Linked DNA regions of Homo sapiens. The protein of the gene in region 1 interacts with the protein of each later gene in a pairwise test. Each region holds a gene or a part of one and is shown in the gene's direction. Other genes may lie near its edges.

The links.
Region 2: the proteins of TFG (region 1) and METTL27 interact in binary tests that used the Homo sapiens proteins (3 or more experiments, as listed by UniProt).
Region 3: the proteins of TFG (region 1) and ARHGEF16 interact in binary tests that used the Homo sapiens proteins (3 or more experiments, as listed by UniProt).

Annotation. Positions count from the first base shown.
Region 1 is NC_000003.12:100,704,648-100,712,994, forward strand, and holds the start of TFG (protein TFG), read left to right. Parts: upstream 1-4,846; 5' UTR 4,847-5,074; exon of another isoform or gene 5,075-5,174; intron 5,175-5,278; exon of another isoform or gene 5,279-6,421; intron 6,422-8,347. UniProt on the Homo sapiens protein: Plays a role in the normal dynamic function of the endoplasmic reticulum (ER) and its associated microtubules. Required for secretory cargo traffic from the endoplasmic reticulum to the Golgi apparatus.
Region 2 is NC_000007.14:73,839,086-73,847,232, reverse strand, and holds the start of METTL27 (methyltransferase-like protein 27), read left to right. Parts: upstream 1-4,716; 5' UTR 4,717-4,743; exon of another isoform or gene 4,744-4,910; intron 4,911-5,088; 5' UTR 5,089-5,092; coding exon 5,093-5,215; intron 5,216-6,034; coding exon 6,035-6,163; intron 6,164-6,683; coding exon 6,684-6,819; intron 6,820-7,112; coding exon 7,113-7,202; intron 7,203-8,147.
Region 3 is NC_000001.11:3,471,204-3,479,095, forward strand, and holds part of ARHGEF16 (rho guanine nucleotide exchange factor 16), read left to right. Parts: intron 1-1,874; coding exon 1,875-2,027; intron 2,028-2,189; coding exon 2,190-2,319; intron 2,320-3,504; coding exon 3,505-3,579; intron 3,580-4,766; coding exon 4,767-4,859; intron 4,860-6,671; coding exon 6,672-6,823; intron 6,824-7,220; coding exon 7,221-7,409; intron 7,410-7,892. UniProt on the Homo sapiens protein: Guanyl-nucleotide exchange factor of the RHOG GTPase stimulating the exchange of RHOG-associated GDP for GTP. May play a role in chemotactic cell migration by mediating the activation of RAC1 by EPHA2.

The DNA of each region.
Region 1 (8,347 bases):
TGTGGTTTTACTTTGCATCTTTTATTATAAGTCTCTCTTTATTGAAATGGCTTTTTGAGAATGCTGTTTAATTATGCATTTATATGGAGGGACTAAAAGCAGGATCCTTGGCATAAATGTTAGATTAGAGACATGAGTGTCTCCAAGTACCCAGAGTTTGATTTTGTCTCTGATATGCATGATTCCTAGACTCTGGCAACTAGGTTTCTTTTACTTTTCTTTTTCTTCTTTTTTTTTTTTTTTTTTTTTTTTGAGAGAGTCTCACTCTGTCACCCAGGCTGGAGTGCAATGGCGTGAGATCATGGCTCACTGAAGCCTTGACCTTCTTGGGCTCAAGGGATCCTCCTGCCTCAGCCTCCCAAGTAGCTGAGACTACACGTACATGCCACTATGCCTGGCTAATTTTTTTGATTTTTATTTTTAGTAGAGACAGGGTCTCACTATATTGCCCAGGCTGGTTTTAAACTCTGGGGTCAAGTGATCATCCTGCCTTGGGCTCCCAAAGTGCTGGGATTATAGGCATGAGGAGCCACCACACTGGGCTTCGGTTTCTTTCTTTCTTTTGGAGCTGGAGTCTCGCTCTGTCACCCAGGCTGGAGTGCAGTGGCACGAACTTGGCTCACTGCAACCTCCACCTCCCAGGTTCAAGCAATTCTCCTGTCTCAGTCTCCCCAGTATCTGGAATTACAGGCGAATGTCACCATGCCCGGCTAATTGGGCCTAGGTTTCTTAAATGAGCCTAACAAAGCTACTCTTGATCAAATGAAAAGTTATATCTTCTTGCACATCTTGTGGCATTTGTATGAGTCTACTAGGGCTACCATAACAAAACACCACAGACTGGGTGGCTTAAACATCAGAAATTTATTTTCTCATAGTTCTGGAGGCTGGAAATAAAAATTTGGTAAGTTTGGTTTCTTCTGAGGGCTCTCTCCTTGGCTTGCAGAAGGCTGCCTTCTTAATGTATCTTCACATGGCCTTGCCTCTGTGTGCACCCATCTCTGGTTTCTCTCTGTGTGTCCTAATCTCCTCTTCTTATAAGGACATCAGTCATACTGAATTAGGGGCTCACCCCAATGACCTCGTTTTAACTTAATCACCTCTTTAAAGAATCCATCTCCAAATACAGTCACCTTTTGAGGTGGTTCAATATATGAATTCTGGGGGAAGGATGCAATTCAGCTCACAATTGCATTTCTCTTTCAACTTGAAATCTGACAGGTAATTTAGCAGAGAGGTAACTTAGCACTGTCTCCAGGGGATGTAAATGAAGAAAAGTGAATGATTTCAAATTACTAAGAGACAAATCCTACATGGCTAGGGAGTTAGGAACTTACCCGTTGACAGCTGATCCTTTTGTTTTTTCTGGGAGCTTGCCCTGTAAAGTGGTGGGGAACTTAGTTTTCATTATTTTATTCAATAACTATGTATTGAATGTCTAGATCAGCCTCTAGTGATACAAAATCTAGGAAGAACTGCCTTTGAGAGTAGTTTCTCTAAAGAGAGATTGGACATAGAGCATCATGGTAAGGCAAAAGCATTTTAGGGATTTCACGGATGTGAAGCTGGTAGGACAGGTTGAAGTATTTTGCTTAGCTAGTGCTAAGAATCACTCACTCAAAGGTACAAAGTAAGAAATCGTTCCTTTCTCCTTCATTATCTCTGCATAGGGTGGCAGCTTCCTATGTTCACACAAGCAAATCTTTACATTTAGCCAGTGAAGGTGAGGCTGAGCTGACTAGCTGGCTCCTGTTTGGTCCTCATGATTCCCCTTCTGTTTGGAGTTCTCTTTTTTTAGCTAGCTGCTGCCACAACAGAGCTGATTCTTGGCAAGGGACATAACTTCTCGTTGGAAATTCTCATCCAAGGAGGAATGTACACGCTTTCCTTTGTTCTTCTGAGGACATATAAGATGACTCAAATTTTCAAAATGATTTATACTAAGTACTAAAGAAGAACATGATGAAACATAGATTTTATCTAACTTGCTAACAGGGCTCATAGTCTTTGTCTCATTTCTTGTCCAGTCTGAGAATCCCGTTTTCATTCTTAGGATTTTTTCCCCCCATTCCATGTGAGGAGTTTTAGCTACACAGACTTTCAGGGAGAAAGAGCAGGTGGTAGCTAAGTTGGTTGGTTGACTCCTTCTCTTAAAATCACAGTGTAAGTCTTAACCCTTCTTCAGATGAAACATGGAAAATAACCTGTGTAGTGCAGAATCTCATATCTTTCCTTGCTACAGTCTGGGTCAAAGATATTTCCTTGCACTCCTTCTCCTTCCTTCACATATCCTCAACTTTAATATACTACCATTAAGCAGTATTTTCTTTTCTTTTTTTTCTTAGCAGTTCCTTGGAAGAAATGAGTAGTATTTTCTAGTTCAAGACTATGCTCAGTGTTCATTTAAAACCAAATTCATCTAGATGCAGAAAAGAAGGCCAGTATGTATCTACAGACATAGTAGAAGAGACCCATCTTCTTGTAAGTGAGGTAACTGGTTCAATTCAGGTTATGGCTCTGTCACTAGATATCACCTGTATTTATTGGGAGCTTAAGTACATAGATGTGCATCAGCTTCGACTTGAGAAATCACCAGAACCCCACCTCTCAAGTTCCACAGAAGTAGCTGGGAATAGGCTTTACCATAAAGAAGACTTTACTGATGGCTTCGGGATGAAGCATGAGGGAAATTACAACATAAAGAGCCTCAAGTTGCTTTCGGAGTCCATGAGCTCCATGAGCTCCAGCTTTTCCACAAGGCCAGCTTATGGGTGCCTCTCTTCCTAGCGTACAGATGACCACAGTGTAACAGGGACCAGCTTATTTCTCCTCAGTAGCAGGACTCTTGAGTGCCCCCTCACTGGGGATCCTCAGCAGATACTCTTTTCACCTTATAATAGGCCAAGGTTCACCTCCTTATCTCCTGCCTCAGGATCTGACCTCTTTTTAGTTTAAATATACTACTATAACAGTAGTATAATTCACTTCCTTCAGGGAATATTTTACCTTTGCCATATGGTTGTGGTTTTACCCCATCCCAAACCATCTTAATGACATCATAATACTATTATCTGACAGCAGTGCATCTCCCCAAATCTGTATTATTCAGTTTTAAAAAATAAGCAATGAATAACATTCTTTGGAGAGCAATTAGGAACTGTTTTTCATTTCTTCTGCAGTACTCCACTCCCTTATCCCTGCAAACAATTGCTCAAAGGTCAATACAACTGTTGGAAAATACAAATCAGAAGTGAACAGTGTAAACTTACATTATTTCACTCTCAAACAGAAGTTTCAGAGACTTATAACTGAAAAAGATCACACTACTTATGGTTGTAAAAGAACGTAGCTTCTCACCCTGAAACACCAGAATTTACTCCAGGTCCTTTAGGAGTATCTGGTGTTAAAGCAAACTAAATATGGCCTGAGAAGGACTCCATACATCTATACTTGAATCCTTGTGGATGAACTGTAACCTAGCTTAACAGACAAGATTGAAAACCTAACTTAGAAGTATGCGTCTCTTACAATAAGCGAGTCTTGGCCAATTCCAGCCGCCACACTTCAATCACTCATAGACTGCTAAGTGTTCAAATAAGGCCAACGCCAACCTGTAACCAATCCAGCTGTTTCTGTACTTCACTGCCAATTTCTGTACCTCATTTCCCTTTTTTTGTCTATAAATCTTCCACCACGTGGCTCTGCTGGAGTCTCTTAATCTGCTGTGATTCTGGGGGCTGCCCAATTCGTGAAATCGTTCACTGCTCAATTAAACTCCTTTAAATTTAATTCAGCTTAAGTTTTTCTTTTATAACTGGTAAACAACTGGAGACCAGGTAGGGTCTAAATGCTTTATTTATCAGCTTAGTCTCCACCTTAGAAGTGACAAACATTCTCCGTTTGGCCAAACTTCGGGCTCCTGGGCCTTCTCCTAGGACCATCTGTGCATCTTCTTGTAAAACTCAGTTTCAGCAAAGAACCTTGTTAAGGCAGTGTAGTGAGAATCCCTCACCCTTGATGGGGTTCCTCATCCTCCACCACCCCCAGGTGATGTCTGCTATCCTGGCCTATCTTCGTCTAGAATCCTGTTGTGTTGGTTTAGCCAGAATCTCCCTTGCCCCTGATATTTCCTCTTAGTAATTTTCCATCCACTGACCGACTTCCACCCCTTGGCTATAAATTCCTACTTACTCATACTGTATTTCTATTTGAACAGGTAAGGGAGAAGGGAAGAGTACGTAGGACACACTCAAATGCCTTATCCTCTAAAAATCACTCAGGAATCTTTAGCCTTAATTTCCCAGCTTTTGTCCTTTACACAGTTACAGATTTTCCTTGCTCATAAACGCTGTAGGTCTTCCCTGCTTAATTGGAAACTCCTTGCTCACAAAATGATTCACCCCCATTCCTAGAACCGGGCTTGGCAAAGCATAGGCTCCCAATAATGAATGAATGGATTTATAGAAGAAAAGGTTTTTTCTTTTTCAGCTGTTACTACAATGGTCAACAATAACGACAAAAACCACTTAAAGTTGGACAGACGTCTACTGCAACCAACTCTCAAAAAGTTTAGAACAGCGCACTACGCCCCGCCCATTGGCGAGAAACGGAAATACCCGCTTTCGAGAAAACCGGAAGTGCGTGGTCACGCCCCGCGCATGCGTGCATCGGGGCAGCTCACGCTTCCTAAATCCCGTCATCCAGTGAGAAAGCAGGGACTCTTCGGCCTAGGCAGCCGGGACCCAGCCAGCCCTGCGCCTCGCGCCGTCGCGCATGCGTCCTGGGTATGTCCACGCGCAATAAGGAGGGGCGAAAGGACATTTTTTTTTTTCTTGCTCCCGCCTCTGTTCTTCCCCCACCTGCCACGTACAGAGCCCAAGTTCTCGCTAGGCTTGTTGGGTCAGCGCGATTGGCCGGGGCCCGCGCGAGCCTGCGAGCGAGGTGCGGCGGTCGCGAAGGGCAACCGAGGGGGCCGTGACCACCGCCTCCCCGCGACGCCCCAGTCCAGTGGCCTCGCGTCCGCCCATTCAGCGGAGACCTGCGGAGAGGCGGCGGCCGCGGCCTCCGCAAGCCGGTATGGCCACTGGAGACGGGGGTTGCGGGCGCTCTGTCCGAGGAGGCCGGGAGACTAGGAGGCGCTGGGAGGGCCTCGTTCGAACCGCGCGGCAGCTGGGGTCGGAGGCACTGTGGGAAGGGGCTGGAGGGAGGAGGGGGTGGGAGGGAGGAGGGGGTGGGAGGGAGGACGAGGCCGGGGGGGAGGGCGGGCGGGGCCTTGCATGGGGGGAGGGGAAGGGAGGTCGCGGAGGGGGAGGGGAGAGAGGCAACCCCTGGCTGCGGTGGCCAGGAGGCGCGCCTGGGGGGCTCCGGGAGGGGAGTGCGCCAGCTAATGCCTTGGTGCAGCCTGCCTCCAAGCGTTTGGATTGAGAGGAGAGGGGCTTTGGGAGGTTTGGGGCGGCCGGCGCCCAATACCCGAAGGAGCTCGGAAGGGTGTGGAGTGGCGCCTACGGGAATAAGTTGATTGGGGTCATAGAATCGGAGCCTAGTTCCTTGGCTAAGTCAGCGCTTAATCAAGCGCCGGCTGGAGGCCCAGCCTGGTTTATAGTGATGATTCTAGCTAACTTTAAGAGTTTGCTTTGCTGGACACTACAGTAAGTATTTTGGATGCACTGTCTCATTTAATCATCACAAGGATTCCTCCAAATTCAGATATGGTTGTTTTCATTTCGAATGTGATGAAAGTGAGCCTTGGAGGACTTAAGATCACATAGCTAGTAGTGAGAATCTTTACCGTCTTGCTGCACTGCCTTTGAGGCAGGGTTTGAGGCCTCTTGGCATTCTTTAGAATAATTACAGGTTGACTTGGCTTAGTATTTCTTGAAGGAAACTGCTCCCCTCAGGAGGTGCTTAAGCCACAGCCTCTGAAATTGAGCAGGGTCTTACCCTTAGAGGTAGTAGAACCAGAAGTTTGTCCGCCGAACCTAGAACCTGGTTCAGGAGGCAGGCTTTTTATATGACCTTGGGCGTGTCAGATTATTCCCAGTGCTGAGAAAAGTGTACCTGGTAGAGGGTTATATTATACAAGTTAGAAGCCGAGTCATTTCTGGACTTCAGAGGGGGCGGGGCAAGGACAAGATGGGAGAAGAGCTTGTCGTAGGGCTCCTACTGGCAGTTCTAGGAACTAGTTAATACCAGTCTCTACTTTGGAAGAGAAAATGAGTACCAGAATTCTGTATGTGAAGTAATGTTGGGTTGGGATTTCCCCTTGAAGGGAAAGTTTTGTTGCACACTTACTTTTGAGATACTTTTGTGTTTACTCTGGGGAGATGACTGCAAGAGCAAACGACAGCTTTAGGAAAGAAGCACTGGTTCCTGGCCACAAGATGTTTACAGTCAATAGGAAACACAAAAAGTGAATTTGCAGGTAAACACGGCAGATAGAAAGTATACGTGACTCAATTTTTTTTTTTTTTTGAGACGGAGTCTGGCTCTGTCGCCCAGGCTGTAGTGCAGTGGCGTGATCCCCCAGCTCACTGCAACCTCCGCCTCCCGGGTTCAAGCGATTCTCCTGCCTCAGTCTCCTGAGTATCTGGGATTACAGGCGTGCGCCACGACAACTGGCTCATTTTTGTATTTTTAGTAGAGACAGGGTTTCACCCTGTTGATCGGTCTGGTCTTGGACTCCTGACCTCGTGATCTGCCCGCCTCGGCCTCCCAAAGTGCTGGGATTACAGGTGTGAGCCACCGTGCCCGGCCCTCAAATTTTAAATCCATTGAAATTGGGCAACAAACCCGTACCCCAGTCAGAAGGACATACCATCAATTATCTTCAAAGCTGGAATTTTTTTCTTAATTAGGAGTGTGTCTGATGGAAGTCACTTCTAGCTACATAAAGAAGGTACAGTGTGAGGGGTCGGATGTAAAAACTGATCTATATTACAGCTTTCTTCTCCCATAATTAAAAAATTTAAACAAAGTCTTTAAATTCTATATGTCAGGCACTTTTCTAGGTGCTGCTGGGAATAGATAGTACCAGCTCACTGAAGCTAAGCACTGGTTCCTTTTACATTATTGCTGGTTTACACTTCTTGTAGGAAGGAGAAGGTAACAAATACATTGATTTATTGAAAGGTCTTTATTACTCTTAGGCTGCCAGAGCAAGCAAGATGGAATATTTACCATCTTGGTGAAGTAATTATACTTTAGAGTTGGCACATAGTAGGTATTTAATAAGTAGTTCCTGAATACCGAAAGCATTGCAGAAGGCATTGCAGAAGGCGAAGAGTTGGTTGTGTGGAGATTTCTGTTAATCACTGTCTTCACGAGAAGTCCATTGTGAGAACTGGCAGATAAAAAGCTAACTGTATTCTTATTTTGCATTAAGATAAGCATGGCATCCCTAGAGTGGAATGCAGTTCACTCTGTTCTGCATTGACCTTAGAGTGTTATATTTAGTTTTAATGACCCATTTCATTGAAGATTTATTAATAAAATATCTGTTGAGAGCATGGTGAGGGGTCTAGAGATATTAATTTAAGGACTAGTTAGATGGAAGGACCTAGCGTATTTATATGAAGAATAGTAGGGCATTAATATATAATATTCATATAATAGGATTCATGAAAACTTTTTTGAAGTACTTGAAGGGTTGATATGTTGGGGGAGTAGGTGAGTGCTTTCACATACCCCGAAAGAATAAAGAATAATTGCAGAGAAGTGTGGTGTTAATGAAATAACAGATTTAAGAGGAGGAAGCAGAAAGCTGCTAGTAGTAAGGCGGGAAGTTGAAACTAGAATGTGGCCAGTAGTAGTTTGTAGGATACCTTGAAAAGTCTCAAGAGATCATTTTCTTGGGGCAGGAGGAGGAAGGAGTTATGCTTGGAAAATGTTCAGCGATTATAGATAACATTCAGGAACATCTTGGCCTTGAGAAGAAGAGATATTAATCCATTATTTTTCCCTTTATTTAATAGCTGTTGAATGACTGTTGTCTGCTAGGCACTGTTGTAGACTCTGGGAATATGGAAAACATAATCGTTTACTTCCTACCATCAAGTGGAAAAGACAATAAAATGTTATAAATTTTTAATGTCTGGTAGTGTTAAGTGCTTTGAAGAAAAATAAAGCAGGATAAGAAGATAATGCCAGGGGAGCCATTTTAAATTAGATGGTTAGGAAAGATCTCTCTCAGTTAACACTTGATAAGGAATCTGAATCATATGAGGGGTATCAGAAAGGGTCAAGACAAAGGGAAAACTTGAAGTATGGGAATAGCAGGGGTGAGTGAAGAAGAGAGGTAGGAAATGAAGTTAAATACTTGGCCAGGGACTGGAGGCCAGATGATTTTATA
Region 2 (8,147 bases), on another chromosome or scaffold:
AATTCTCCTGCCTCAGTCTCCCGAGTAGCTGGGACTACAGGTGCCCGCCAGCATGCCCAGCTAATTTTTGTATTTTTAATAGAGACAGGTTTTCGCCATGTTGGCCAGGCTGGTCTCGAACTCCTGACTTCAAGCGATCCACCCACTTCGGCCTCCCAAAGTGCTAGGATTACAGGCATGAGCCACCACACCTGGCCTGCCTTGGGCTTTGAATGTAAGGATGCAAGGAATGTTCAAGTTGCTGCCACCATTTGTGACCAGAAGGAGCCAACAGTGCAAACACACAATGTGGCAAGTGAGAGGTTGGCACCAGGGCCCTTGTGAGATCAGTGGGCCCCTGGCCTGGCCCCTGTGCTGCTGACCACTGGCCTTCTTGCTGTAAGAAAAATACCAAACCCCTAATATTTAAACCACTTGGGGTTGGTTTTTGTCGTGTTTTTTTTTGTTTTTTTTTTTTTGTTTTTTTGAGACAGTGTCTGCTCTGTTGCTCAGGCTACAGTGCAGTGGCACAGTCCTAGCTCACTGCAGCCTCAACCTCCTGGGTTCAAGCGATCCACCTCAGCCTCCTGAGCAGTTGGGACCACAGGCACGTACCACCACACCCAGGTAATTTTTGAAGTTTTTTGTAGAGACAGGGTCTTCCTATGTTGCCCAGGCTGGTCTCAAACTCCTGGGCTCAAGCGATCCTCCAGCCTCGGCCTCCCAAAGTGCTGGGATTACAGGTGTGAGCCACTGCACCCAGCCAATGGATCATTTTAATACATCTCCCACCCCAAACTGTTTTCTCTTCCCCAAGCCCCCAAGCTCCCTCTGTCACTTTGGCAGCAACTAGACTTGGTGGGAGGGGAAGCTTGATATCCACGGCCCGTAGTATGTAGGGTCCAGCCCTATGGGGCTTAGCGGGTGTTCTCCCCGTGTGCGGAGATGAGAGATAGTAATAAATAAAGACACAAGACAAAGAGATAAAGAGAAAACAGTTGGGCCCGGGGGACCACTACCATCAAGATGCAGAGACCGGTAGTGGCCCTGAACCGGCTGGAAGTGCTGATATTTATTGCATAGGAGACAAGGGGGCAGGGTAAGGAGGGTGAATCTTCTAAGTGATTGACAAGGTGAAGCAAGTCACATGATCGTAGGACAGGGGGCCCTTCCCTCTTAGGTAGCCGAAACAGAGAGAGAGAAGGCAGCATACGTCAGCGTTTTCTTCTATGCATTCATAAGAAAGACCAAATACTTTAAGACTTTCAGTATTTCTTCTATCGCTGTCTACTACGAACTTCAAAGAGGAACCAGGAGTAGAGGAGGAACATGAAAGTGAACAGGGAGCATGACTATTGAAGCACAGCCCCACAGGGAGGGGTTTAGGCCTCCGGATGACTGCGGGCAGGCCTGGGTAATATCCAGCCTTCCACAAGAAGCTGCTGGAGCAGAGTGTTCCCTGACTCCTCCAAGGAAAGGAGACTCCCTTTCGTGGTCTGCTAAGTAACGGGTGCCTTCCCAGACACTGGCGTTACCGCTTGACCAAGGAGCCCTCAAGTAGCCCTTATGTGGGCGTGACAGAAGGCTACCTCTTGCCTTCTAGGTCACTTCTCACAATGTCTCTTGAGCACCTGACCCTATACCTGCCAGTTATTCCTAGGTTATATTAGTAATTAAAAGCTAATGATTAATAATGTTTATAATAATGATTGATAATTGTCCATGATCATCTCTACATCTAATTTGTATTATGACTATTCTTATTCCATTTTCTTTATTATACTGAAACAGTTTGTGCCTTCAGTCTCTTGCCTCGGCACCTAGGTAATCCTCCGCCCACAGGAGTGAGAGGGTCATTTTCAGCAAAAGACACAGAAAAGGCTTTGAGGCTCCAAAAACTTAAGACTTGAGGGGAGTAAAGGATTAGAGGCAAAAAAAATAAAACTTGATGAGTCAGAGAAAGGCCTTCCAGCCCCAAGGCTAGAACAGGCTCCTGGGCCAAGGAGGAGAAAAACCGGAGGAGGCTTGTGCTTTGAGGTATTTCAAGATGTTTCAGGCACATCTCATACTTTTCCTGCCCCAAGCGTTTCAGTCATTTCATCAGCTGTTTCTCTAAGGAGCTCTGGTTCCTTTTAGTTGATAACGCTTTTTTTTTTTTTTAAAGAGATGGGGTCTCGCTGTGTTGCCCAGGTTGGAGTGCAGTGGTGCAATTTCTGCTCACCGCAACCTCCGCCTCCCAGTTTCAAGCGATTCTCCTGCCTCAGCCTCCTGAGTAGCTGGATTACAGGTGCGTGTGCTACCACTCCCAGGTAATTTTTGTATTTTTAGTAGAGACGGGGTTTTACCATGTTGGCCAGGCTGGTCTTGAACTCCTGACCTCAAGTGATCCACCCGCCTCGGCCTCCCAAAGTGCTAGAATTACACACATGAGCCACTGCACCTGGCAAGAATGCATTTTTAGAACCAGATCTGGATGCTCGTTGTGGTGATTACTACTGAAGCGTTAATTGTGTTTAGGTCATTTTGGCAGACAAAGCTAGGAAACTCACAAATACACACACATACATGTATGTCTATTTACATATCTTTCCATTTATTTATGTTAAAACCCATGAGTTTACTCTAATATCTCCCACTCTCCTCCAACGCTACAGGGTTCCTTCTACTCATCACCCTGTAAAACCAGAAAATCTAAGACAGGTCTCAGTTAATTTGGAGAGTTTATTTTGCCAAGATTGAGGACGCACGCCTGTGACACAGCCTCAGGAGGTCCTGACGTCATGTGCCCAAGGTGGTCGGGGCACAGCTTGGTTTTATACATTTTAGGGAGACACGAGACATCAATCAATATATGTAAGAAGTACATTGGTTTTGTCTAGAAAGGTGGCGACAACTCGAAGCAGGGAGGGGGCTCCGGGTCACAGGAAGGTGAAAGACAAATGGTCCTATTCTTTGAGTTTCTGATAAGCCTTTCCCCTGTAATCTCAGCTACTCAGCAGGCTGAGGCAGGAAGTGGAAGTTGCATGAGCTGAGATTGAGCCACTGCACTCCAGTCTGGGTGACAGAGCGAGACCCCATCTCATAAAAAAAGAATGCCTTCACCATCTGGGAATGCAGTCCAGTAGGTCTCAGTCTTATTTTACTCAGCCGCTATTCAAGATGGAGTTGCTCTGGTTCAAACATCTCTGACACTTCGACACTTCTACCCCCTAAACATCTCTGAAGATCACCCACTCCTCTCCGCAGTCATGACCTCTACCCAAGGTCATGCAACCATCACCTCCTGCCTGGACACCTGCAACAGCCTGCCAAATTCTGCCTGCCCAAACCCTTGATTCCAACACAGGTCCTCTAGACCAGCGCTTCTGAACCTTCAGCTGCCTAGAAATCGCCTGCAGAGTTTGTAGAAACACAGAAACTCTGGGCCCCAGTCCCAGAAATCTAATTCTCATTCAGAAGGTCCCAGGTCAACTGAGAATTTTTACTTTTTTTTTTTATTTGAGATGGAGTCTTGCTCTGTCACCCAGGCTGAAGTGCAGTGGCGCAGTCTCTGCTCACTGCAATCTGTGCCTCCCAAGTTCAAGCTATTCTCCCACCTCAGCCTCCTGAGTAGCTGGAATTACAGATGCCCGCCACCACGCCCGGCTAATTTTTGTATTTTTAGTAGAGATGGGGTTTTGTCCTGTTAGCCAGGCTGGTCTCAAACTCCTGTCCTCAAGTGACCCGCCCACCTCAGCCTCCCAAAGTGCTGGGATTACAGGTGTGAGCCACTGCGCCCCGGCCTAATTTTTGCATTTCTCACAAGCTTCCCTAGGGCATCTCCTAGAGGAAACCAAGATGTTACGGAGGCTGACGCTGCGTATCTTCAGGTCACACTTCCAGCCGCAAGACTCTCTCTGCTGTCCAATACAGTAGCCACTAGCCACATGTGGCTATTTAACTTATTAAAATAAAATTTGCCAGTACGGTTTTTTAAAATAAAATTATTAAAATAAAATTTGCCAGGAGGCAGAGGTGGGAGAATCGCTTGAGACTAGGAGTTTAAGACCAGCCTGGACAACATTTTTTGTCTCTACAAAAACTACGAAGATAAAAATAAATAGATAAAAATTTAAAAAGCCGGGCAAGGTGGCATGCACCTGTAGTCCCAGCTACTCAGCTACTCAGAAGGCTGAGGCAGGAGGCTGGCTTGAGCTTGAGTTCAAGGCTGCAGTGAGCTATGGTCAAGCCACTGCACTCCAGCCTGGGCGACAGAGTGAGACCCTGTCTCATAAAACAAAACAAAAATAAAACAAAATAAGTAAATATAAATACAAAGTAAAAATGAAAGCTAATCCTAGGTCCCTCTCCTGCCCATAAGAATTCAGAGACTCCCCAGTGCCTACAAACCTCATGCTTTCAGGAAGCATAAAGGACTTCAGGAGGCAGGAGGGCAGTTGGAGGGGGATGGTGGAGGTGCTGCTACCTGACGGTGGAGGGGGAGGCCGGGGCCAGACCACCGAGAAGCCCCTAAACCCGCACAGCAGGAAAACATCTCCGCAGTCCCTGCTCTACCAAGGCTGGAGGAGGGCCACAAGCCTTGAGCTCATTGGCTGGCGGGGGGGGGGGGGGCGGGCAGACTGCCAGCGCCTTCCTTTGACTGGCTATTTTCTCTCAGCGGAAAACCAATCATTGCGGGCAGGCGGTGAGGGTGTGGCCAGGGTCGCAACACAGGCCCCGCCCCGAGTCCTGTTGCCCACACGCCCGAGGCGCGCTGGATTGGCGGTGAGTTCTGACTCCGGCCTCCTTCGAGACCGTTTCGCTCCGGATGTCGCCCACCTCCGACCCTCTCTCAGTCGGAGGGCGGAAAAGAGGAAGATAGGTCCTTCCTCCAGCCGCGGGGCACCCCCTTCTCCCACCTTGCCCTTCCCCCAGCCCTGCAGCCCCAGAGTGTAAATATCCAAGCCCGCCCTCTCTGCGCTCAGTGTCCCCATCTGGGATAGGGGCCGGGATAGGGGTCGCGCTGGCAGGAGGCCTGGCAGCCTCCTCTGAAGGGGGAGGAGGGAAGGGGGAAAGGAGGGGATGGGCGATTGAGGTGGACCTCGAGACAGGGCAACGGTGTCCCCACAGGAGCATGGCCCAGGAGGAGGGTGGGAGCCTGCCCGAGGTGCGGGCGCGGGTCAGGGCCGCGCATGGCATCCCCGACCTGGCCCAAAAGCTCCATTTCTATGACCGCTGGGCTCCGGACTACGACCAGGTAAACTCATTTGGGGCCTTGCCTCCACTAGACCAGCCTCCATTTTTCTACCTGTAAAGTGGGGAATCAGCCTTGCACCCGGGGGCGGCTGTGAGGACGAAGTGAGGCCTGGCTAAGAACCCTACAGTCCTGCCCCTTCCAGAACCCGCCCCACAGCTCTGGATTGGCAGCCCCATCAGGGGCCATGACCTCCTGAGGGGGGCTGCCTGGAGGAGGTGCTATTGAGAAGTCACTGTGGGGCCGGGCGCGGTGGCTCACAAGCCGTAATCCTAAGCCCTTTGGGAGGCCGAGGCGGGCGGATCACCTGAGGTCAGGAGTTCGAGACCAGCCTGGCCAGCATGGTGCAACCCTGACTCTACTAAAAATACAAAAATTAGCCAGGCCCACGTGGTGGCAGGCGCCTGGTAATCCCAGCTACCCTGGAGGCTGATGCAGGAGAATTGCCTGAATCCGGGACACAGAGGTTGCAGTGAGCCAAGATCTCTTCACTGCACTCCAGCCCGAGTGACAGAGGGAGACTCTGTCTCAAAAAAAAAAAAAAAAAAAGTCATGTGGACTCAGCAGAGAGAGCCGCTTGGCCAGGAGAGAAGGTCCCTGGAGGGCTGAGTCTACTGTACAGTGGGCTGGGGGCTAACTCTCCAGTCCTGGCCCTTTAGCAATGGGAAGCACCTCATGCCTGGGCGTCCCCTCACGCTAGCCCCAGCCAGGCTTGATCCCCAACACACACAGCTTAGCCTGGCAGACTCTGAGACCACCCCATAAGGGAGATCCCCCAAACACTGGGGCACCGGTGTTGTAGGCCCGGCACTCTTTCCCCAGGATGTGGCCACCCTGCTGTACCGTGCGCCCCGCCTCGCAGTGGACTGCCTCACACAAGCCCTTCCAGGCCCGCCCCACAGTGCCCTGATCCTGGACGTGGCCTGTGGCACAGGCCTAGTGGCTGCCGAGGTGAGGCTCTTCCAGATCCCCTGCCTACTCCTTAGCCCCGCACTTCCTCAAATCTCCTACTGCCCCTGGCCCCAGAACCCTGCCCCACACCTCAGACTCACTGTTTCAAATGCATGAGACAGGACCAGGCATACTGTGGCTCACACTATGGGAGGCCGAGGCAGGAGGACAGCTTGGGGCCAGGAGTTTGAGGTCAGCCTGGGCAACATAGCAAGACCCCTGTCTCTACAAACAGATTTAAAAATTAGCCAGGCAGGGTGGTGCACGCCTGTAGTCCCAGCTACATGGGAGGCTGAGGTGGGAGGATCACTTGAGCCCGGAAGTTCAAGGCTGCAGTGAGCTATGATCACGCCACTGCACTCCAGTTTGGGCGACAGAGAGAGACCTTGTCTCAAAAATTTAAAAAAAGCAAATGCATGGGCCACATTCAGTGCAGAGTCCACTGCCCTGCCAAGGTGCAGGGACCCAGCCGGGAAGTGGCAGGTGTGAACCATGACTGAGTCTCCCACCCCTACCCCAGCTGCGGGCTCCAGGCTTCCTCCAGCTGCATGGGGTGGATGGGAGCCCAGGGATGCTGGAACAGGCCCAGGCCCCCGGCCTCTATCAGCGCCTCAGCCTCTGCACCCTGGGCCAGGAGCCTCTGCCCAGCCCGGAAGGTACTTTCTCTCCCACCTCCACACCCCGAGGCCCACCCTCATGAAGCCCTTTCCCTTGCTGATCCTCCATCCCTCTCCCACACTAAGCTCCCAGTCCCTCACTCAACCCTGCACCCCACGATCTGACTGCAGCCCAGAACTGGGCCATACTTACCTTATCCTCTAGGGGACCTGGGTCCTGCAGATGCGGGTAGTAGCCTCGTCCCACCCCTAGGGTGGTCTGAGGCCACACCATAGACAAAGTACCTTCCAAGCATCACACCATGTCCCCACCCCCCCCCACACACACACAGGGACCTTCGACGCGGTGCTGATAGTCGGTGCCCTCAGTGACGGCCAGGTGCCCTGCAATGCGATACCTGAGCTACATGTCACCAAGCCAGGTGAGGAGCAGCCCAGCCAACCACCCCCAACCCCCGTCACCATATACCTTCCCCTGTGCATAGTGCAGACACAGGCCCCAGAGCCCCTCAGGCTAAGCGAGGGGCAGCGTCCTGCCCAGCGTCACACACAGCCTAGCCTAACATCCCAGCCACCAACAGCAGACCCAGGCAAACAGGCCGGGCAGACAGGTGGCCAGCTCGGCTCTTATCCATGGACAACCAGGAGCAACTCCACCCTCCTCTGCAGCCTCCTTTTCCCAGTCTGGGAGTCAGGTGGTATAAATGCTACAATCCAGTCCCCGTAGGACTGCAGTGAGAATCAGGTGAAATCCTGTCTCTAAGGTTTTTGCTTTGGTCCTGACCCACAGTGAGGGCTCAGTTCTGTTCCTTCCTCTCACTGCTTCCTCACTCATTCATAGACTGCCTTTGGAGCATCTCTTTCTCTTTCCTGGTCTCAGTCTTCTCATCTGGGAAATGGGGCTGCTCAGGGGAGATGAGAGCTGTGAGCACCGTTTGTAAACTTTGCACATTGCGCTGCCCGGGCAGGTGTGTTTCCCGTCTCCTGCTGTGTTCTTGCTCAGCGCTTTGTTCTGCTCTGGGCAGAGGGCTCAGACCCTGCCCTCTGGGCCTTGATCTCCAACCCACTGGGGCCCAGGAAGGGGCCAGAGAGCACAGGGCCTGGTCAGAGGTGGCCCCACGAGAGCCGTGAGTGCTCACTGCTCCCAGAATTTATTTATTTATTTAATTTGAGACAGAGTCTTGCTCTGTCACCAAGGCTGGAGTACAGTGGCACAATCTCAGTTCACTGCAACCTTCACCTCCCAGGTTCAAGAGATTCTCCTGCCTCAGGCTCCCAAGTAGCTGGGATTACAGGAGCCCACCACCACACCCAGCTAATTTTTGTATTTTTAATAGAGATGGGGTTTCATCATGTTGGCCAGGCTG
Region 3 (7,892 bases), on another chromosome or scaffold:
GAGCATCGAGTCTCCTGAGCCTCAGCCTCAATGCTAACCTGAGGGGCGGTGCCTCTGGTCCCCTCGTGGGCTTGGGTGGCGCTGGGAGATGATTAGGGGCCTGTAGTGCCTGGCACAGGGCTGCCCCAACAGTGGTGGTTGCTGGCGCATTCTTATATCAGCCCCGCCCCTGGCGAGTCCCACCCATCTGCTGCCTGTGGGGTGCCCTTGCGGAACTTTGGGGCCCTGAGGGTGGGCAGGGAGCCGCCTTGTCCCTGGAGACAGGGGCTTCCTGTAGAGCTCCAGGGACCAGCTATGGGAAACTCCCAACCTCTGACTCAGCATGGGATGGGGCTGGGGGAGGGGGAGGGGTCTGGGATAGCGGCTGCCCCTCCCCCAGCTCTGCCCCCAGCCAGGCAGGCTTTGTGTTCTCTGAGCTCTGTGTCCTCCGGTCCCCTCTGCCTCAGGCAGCTGCATGTTTGCCTCTGACCTCCTCAGGGCTTTAGATTGCTGCCCTGGGGCGGGAAGCTCCGGCCTCCTCCCCCAGCTGGGCCCCCGACAGCTCCTGGCATTCACAGTGAACTGTCTGGGGAATCATCGCTATTTGGGGTAAGCGGCTGGTGGGCGGCTCTCCCAGACCTTTCTCAGAACCTGCAGTCACCCATATGAGCTGCTGACCGGCCTGGCCGGCCTGGGCACGTACGCATGTCGTGGCCCTGCTCATCCAGCAACCGAGGCCTCCCATGACCTGCTGGGTCCTCGTCCACGGGGACTGCAGCTCCATCTGCTGGGGATTCTCAAGGGCAAGCAGCTGTCAGGACACTCTCCCTGCAGGAAGCGTGGCTCCTGCGTGGGTGGCAGGCCCAGTCGGGCCCCGTGAGCAGAGGAGGAGGGACTCCCGCCCACCTCCACGCTGGGTAAGGGAGTCCTCCGAAGGACAGAGCTCTTGGGCTGGGAGGACCTCCTGTGGCGGCGGCCTGGAGACACGGATGTGGTCTCGGGTTGGGTGCTCTGAGGGTCTGCAGGATGGACGAGGCTCCAGCCACCGCCTCACACAGCAGGTGACCATCGTGGGTCCAGCCAAGCCCAGCCTTGGTGGCCGTGGCCGCCCATGGGGGCAGAATCCTGGCAGCCCTGGCCTAGCTCTGACCAAGTGTTAACTCCCTTCATCCTGATCACCCTGGACCAAGGCCTGGGTCATGGGGAGGTGAGGGGCTGGTAGCCCCTTCCAGGGAGTCTGCCAAGAGCCCACAGCTGGCCCCCCCCCGGCCTTGACTGTTCCCTCAGAACGGGGTGGGGGACCTAGTGAAAGTAAACAGTTCATGAACCCAGCTGGGAGCTTGACCAGCAGAGCTGCCTCGGATTTGGGACTCATCCTTGGAAGGGGTGGCCCCAGGCATCGCCCCTCTTTGCTCTTGTGCCTGTCCCCTGAGTCTCCGTCCTTGAGTTTCTTCCCAGGGGCAAGCTGGTGCGGCAGCGGGGGCCCGGGCCTGTGTGGAGGCCCAGTCGTTTTAGCTGGAAGGAGCTTGAAGGGCGAAGGGCACCAACTGGACAGGGCACCAGGACAGGAGGTCCAAATGGGCCCGCCTTTGGGGACAGTCCCTGGGGCTGCCCCTGGACAACAGAGGGACGGCACCAGTGCGTGGGATCGTGGCAGGGGGCTCTGTAAGGAGCCCCAGGCCTCTGACCACTTCCCACCCGCCCTCCCTGCTGTCCAGCATCCCAGGTCCGGGTCCCGCCCCAAGTGCTTGCTGTGTGCTGCCTCTGGGAGCTGAGCTCAGCTCCTGCCACGTCCATGTATGTGTGAGTGTGCATGCAGATGCATGTCTGTGTGTGCACACGTGGGGCCCGACCACCAGGCCCGTGGCACCCTCCTCACCCCTCCTTGCCTTCAGGTTCTTCGAGGACCTGGAGCAGCGGCACAAGGCCCAGGTGCTGGTCGAGGACATCAGTGACATCCTGGAGGAGCACGCTGAGAAGCACTTCCACCCCTACATCGCCTACTGCTCCAACGAGGTCTACCAACAGCGCACGCTGCAGAAGCTGATGTGAGTGGGCGGCCCCGAGGCCCGCAGGGTGGCTCAGGAGCATCCTGCACCCTGGTCTCCCAAAGCACATTCCTGCTCCCAGCCCAGCTTCTGCAGGTCCTGCCTGATTTTGGTACAGGCTGGCCATGCAGAGCCTGGAAGGACAGCCTTGTCCTCTTGCAGAAGCAGCAACGCCGCCTTCCGAGAGGCCCTGAGAGAGATTGAGAGGCGGCCGGCGTGCGGGGGCCTGCCCATGCTCTCCTTCCTGATCCTCCCCATGCAGCGGGTGACCCGGCTGCCCCTCCTGATGGATGTAAGTCCACGGCCTGAGGGTGGGGCCGGGCATACCATCCTGGGGTCCCACGGCCAGAGCCCTGCCCCGGATGGAGCATTACGTGCTTGTGACCTTCTCCTCCAGGCTTGGCCTATGATATTGTAATAGTTACGATCCTAAGATGGCTTTATTAACCAGGATAACTTTGTGGTCGCCGCCACCCACAGAGCTCACTGTGCCGGGAACTGTTCCAGCCCTTGGCGGATTTGTGTTCACTTACTCAATGGTTCATGAGGTTCAGGCACACTGACGAGTTGGAACTGGCATCACCCAGAGCCCTGCTGAGCCTCCTCCCAGCCCCCACCCCACCAGTCCTCCTAGACGTGGTAGCCCTGTCCCTGGCACCTACTCTCCCTGTTCTGTGGACGCAGAGAGGGGCTCAGAGAGGCTCACCAGCATGGGCTGTGTGTGTGGGATGCCAGCCCACAGGGCAGAGGGTATATGAGGGTGAAAGGTGTACACACACACGCACACATGTATATACAGTGTACACGCACTCAGGCACGTATGTGCCCATGTGCACACAATGCATATGTATGGATGCACGCCAGTACACACATGCATGCACACTTGCACACACTGCATTGCACCGATGCATGCACATGTGCACACAATGCACACGTTTGCATACATGCACACACAGGCACTGCACACACATGCACCCGGTGCACACACATACACGTGGATGCACACACATGCATGCACATGGTGCACAGGCATATTCACACATGTGCATGCTGCCCATACACACAGCCCCGCACATGGCAGGACTGAGCTAAGCTTCCTGAGGCTACACATGGCAGGGTTGCCCAAGCCAAACAGAACCTCAAACTCCTGGGGGCCCCAGGGATGTGCAGAAATGGGGCTGCCAGGGGGCCTCCACTGACGATTCCCCAAGTTGGATGGAGATGGCCGAGGATGGGAAGGGAAGGGTTCCAGGCAGGGGTGCTAGCTCCTGTTCCCACTCAACCTGGCCTGACCTGGCAGAGCTCCAGGTGGTGCAGAGGCCGTTCAGGGGCTGTACGTGCTGTGGGGCCCTGCAGGAGCCCCCTGGGGGCAGCTGTTGACCACCCTGCAGCCCCACACGGGGTCTGGCGTTGGTGGGAGCCTCCACACCTGGGATGCCAGAGGGGACTTTCTGTCCCATGTCTGTTGTCCATCCAGACGCTCTGCCTCAAGACCCAGGGCCACTCCGAAAGGTACAAGGCTGCCAGCCGTGCACTGAAGGCCATCAGCAAGGTAAGATGGGGCCTGGCCCCAGCCCTACCCGAGTCCTGTACCCCGACCCTGTCCCCACCCAACCCCACCCTACCCGATGGCATAGGGCTGGCTTCCCCTACCTTCCAGGGCAGCGAGTGTTCTCAGATTATCCATCCCAAGCCTTTCACAGCGCTGACAGGGAAACTGAGGCCCAGAGGTTCCCAGATTATCCATCCCAAGCCTTTCACAGCGCTGACAGGGAAACTGAGGCCCAGAGGTTCCCAGATTATCCATCCCAAGCCTTTCACAGCGCTGACAGGGAAACTGAGGCCCAGAGGTTCCCAGATTATCCATCCCAGGCCTTTCACGGCGCTGACAGGGAAACTGAGGCCCAGAGGTTCCCAGATTATCCATCCCAGGCCTTTCACGGCGCTGACAGGGAAACTGAGGCCCAGAGGTTCCCAGATTATCCATCCCAGGCCTTTCACGGCGCTGACAGGGAAACTGAGGCCCAGAGGTTCCCAGATTATCCATCCCAGGCCTTTCACGGCGCTGACAGGGAAACTGAGGCCCAGAGGTTCCCAGATTATCCATCCCAGGCCTTTCACGGCGCTGACAGGGAAACTGAGGCCCAGAGGTTCCCAGATTATCCATCCCAGGCCTTTCACAGCGCTGACAGGGAAACTGAGGCCCAGAGGTTCCCAGATTATCCATCCCAGGCCTTTCACAGCGCTGACAGGGAAACTGAGGCCCAGAGGTTCCCAGATTATCCATCCCAGGCCTTTCACAGCGCTGACAGGGAAACTGAGGCCCAGAGGTTCCCAGATTATCCATCCCAGGCCTTTCACAGCGCTGACAGGGAAACTGAGGCCCAGAGGTTCCCAGATTATCCATCCCAGGCCTTTCACAGCGCTGACAGGGAAACTGAGGCCCAGAGGTTCCCAGATTATCCATCCCAGGCCTTTCACAGCGCTGACAGGGAAACTGAGGCCCAGAGGTTCCCAGATTATCCATCCCAAGCCTTTCACAGTGCTGACAGGGAAACTGAGGCCTAGAGCCAGTGGAGCTCTCACACAGTTGATGAGCCCGTGGCACGGCTGGTCCAGGGCAGGCACTGTGGGCAGCCAGAGGCTGGCTGGGCAGGTGTCCTGGGCACACTGTGGGCCGTGTGGGCTGTGCCAGGGCCCTGTAGCACCAGCCTCTCACACGGGAACCATGCCCTGCAGCTGGTGAGGCAGTGCAACGAGGGGGCCCACAGGATGGAGCGCATGGAGCAGATGTACACGCTGCACACACAGCTGGACTTCAGCAAGGTCAAGGTAGGTGGCCCCGGACATCAGGGCCACTCGGACCACTTCCCACTCAGCCCTCCCTGCTGGCCTGCGTGTGAGGTCACACCCCTGAGCCTGAGGGCTGGAGAGTGGGTGCCTGCCCTCATGAGGCCTGGGGGCTGGGCCTCCTAGGGCTGGTGGCTCTGGTCTCTCCAGGCCTCAGTCTCCCGATCTGGGAGCGCCCCTTGTGGACCCCTCCCCTAATCCCACTGGGTGGGCCTCTGTGGCCCTTGCCCCATCCCCAGGACTGCACCGGCAAAGGGTAGACCCTAGGCCCTGAGTGACCAAGCCCAGGGGGCAACAGGAGTGGCCCTGTCAGTGCACTTGCCTGGGGCCAGCGCTCCTTGCTGGCCCCTCAGGGGCTGGGCAGGGCCTGAGGACAGAGCGGAGGGGACAGGGTGATTTCAGGGCCAGCCCAGATTCCATGTTTCCCAGTGAGGCTTGGATTCTGGGTAGGGTGAAATATTTCCAGCCCAGGCCCGGGCAGCCCTAGTCCCTGCCACAAACGGGCAGGGCTCATACCTCTCCCTCCAGAGCCCCCCACCCACGATCCCACACACTGGCCGCATCCTCTGTTGTCCTGGGACAGCCCAGGGCCCCTCCCCTAAGGCGGGCCCAGGTGGGTCTCCTGTCCTGGTGCCCCATCCAGGGGGTGTCCTTCAGGGTGGAGCAAGAAGTGGGTGACAGGCCACCAGCCACCCTCACTCAGGGCCACGGACAACCAAGTAAGGGTGCGGGGTCCCAGCTGGGGGAGGGGGCTCCCGGGGTGGGTCAGGGCGGGCTGCCTGGGGCAGGCGTCAGGGCGGTGACTTCGCGCCGCTGTCGCTGAGCCCACACCCGTGCAGCCCTCACGCTTGTCTCCCTGATCCTCTCGAGTCTGGGGTGTAACGCCTGCCCCTGCCAGAGCAAGGACCCCCTCCCAGGCCTGGTCCACCCCTGAGTGGGGCTCTCACCCCCACATGGTCTTGAAGTTGGTCTTGGAAACGGGTGTGGGGGTGGGGAGAACAGGCCCATCCAGGAGGGAGGGTGGTGGCAGAGGCCGGGAGCGGGAGGTGCCGGGGGCTCTGAGTCTGTAGTGGGCACAGGTGGGGAAGCCGGGGCCCACAGGGAGCAGGTGAGGAGGTGTCAACAGTCGCTGAGGAGCGGGAGCTGGTGGGCAGGCTCCTCATTCCCACTCTGCCCTCCCCCCCACCCTGTACTGCCACCCCCTACTGCGACACCCATCCCCGTCACCCCCACACTACCCACCCCATCACCCCCACACTGCCCACCCTCTGGCCTTTGCCATCCTTCTGCCCCCCACTGACTCCAGCAACTCAGCACCAGGCAGCAGGGAGGATGTTCTGTGGCTCAGGAGCCAGGAAAGGCCCCAGACGTGGAGCGTGGCCATCACGGGTGGGCCTGCCCCTGCCAACCCTCCCTCGGGGCTGAGCAGGTCCTTGTGCCTAGGAGGCCCAGCGTCTGCGTAATTGCCACGGAGGGGTGAGGTGTGTGTGGAGGCTTCCCCAGCACTGGCCTTCGAGTCCTGGCTTGGGTGAAATGTTCAGTGGTCACCCAGCCCTGGGCTATCGGGCAGGGTCTGGTCCGGCCTGGCGCACCTCGATTTGAGGCCCGGACACATTGTGCCCCTTTCCTCTGTCCAGCCCCGACTGAGGGCAGCCAGCTGGTCACCCAGTCCAGAGGCAGGAGTCAGTCCCACCTGGTGCTATGCGTCCTTGACCCCCTGGGGACCTGCTCACCCCGGCTCTGTCCCCCCCAGTCCCTCGCACTGATCTCCGCCTCCCGGCTCTGTCCCCCCAGTCCCTCCCACTGATCTCTGCCTCCCGGTGGCTGCTGAAGCGCGGAGAGCTGTTCTTAGTGGAAGAAACCGGACTTTTTCGAAAAATTGCCAGCCGGCCAACGTGCTACCTTTTCCTGTTCAACGATGTCCTGGTTGTGACCAAGAAGAAGAGGTGGCCTTAGGGCAGGAGGGTGTGGGGAGCCCCACTCCATGGACACTGGACCGCTGGCCCTGGGGCAGGAGGGTACAGGGAGTTGGCCCTGAGCCCCTCTGACCTCAGAGCCGAGGCGCGGCTTCCACTCGGCACATGCTCTACGTGACACTCGGGGGCAGGTGGCGCTCGCTGTGCAGCCTCTGACCTCCTCTGCAGACCTGGGTCTGCCGGTGATAGCCACGAGGAGGACTCGAAAGCCATGGCCTCTGTTCTGTGGGACGCGGGAACTCTTGGAGCCCGTCCGTGGCTGCCTCCCCACCACTGCAGGGGAGCCGGGTGGGACCTGGACGGGAGCCCAGCAGCACTGGGTAGGAGCTGGGTGGGACCGTCCCACCGACTGCCCGTGTCTCCACAGCGAGGAGAGCTACATGGTCCAGGACTACGCCCAGATGAACCACATCCAGGTGGAGAAGATAGAGCCGTCTGAGCTCCCTCTGCCCGGGGGCGGCAACCGTAGCTCCTCCGTGCCCCACCCCTTCCAGGTGACCCTGCTTCGCAACAGCGAGGGCCGCCAGGAGCAGCTCCTGCTCTCCTCGGACTCCGCGTAAGTGGGCTCCCGGGAGGGCTGTTCCCAGGCCACAGGCACATTAGCTCCATGGGGACCGGGTTGTCCCCCTGCCTTGCTCGCTGTTGCATGGCTGGCTCTGAACGCCCACCGTGCACCTGGCCCTGCTGTAGGTGCTGAGGTAGAGCCAGAAACAACAGAAATGGCCTTGTCCTCATGGAGTTTATGTTCCCGGGAGGGGACGCACCAACAGTTGGGCCACCAGGAGTGGGAACAAGGGAGGAAACGAGGTGGGGGGTGGGGTGCGGGGGGTGCCGTGAGGAAAGCTTAGCCCATGTGAGCAGAGGGAGGTGGGGCCGGAGTGTGGGGTTGCTCAGCAGAGGCCCCGAGGCAGGAGAGCCCTGAGGCCCCGAGGGCACAGCTGCAGGTGGACAGCAGTGATGCTGGGGTGCAGCGACCCTGGCCGGTAGGGGCCAGTTCAGACAGCAGGGTGGTCCTGGCACTCAGAATGGGAGGGGGCAC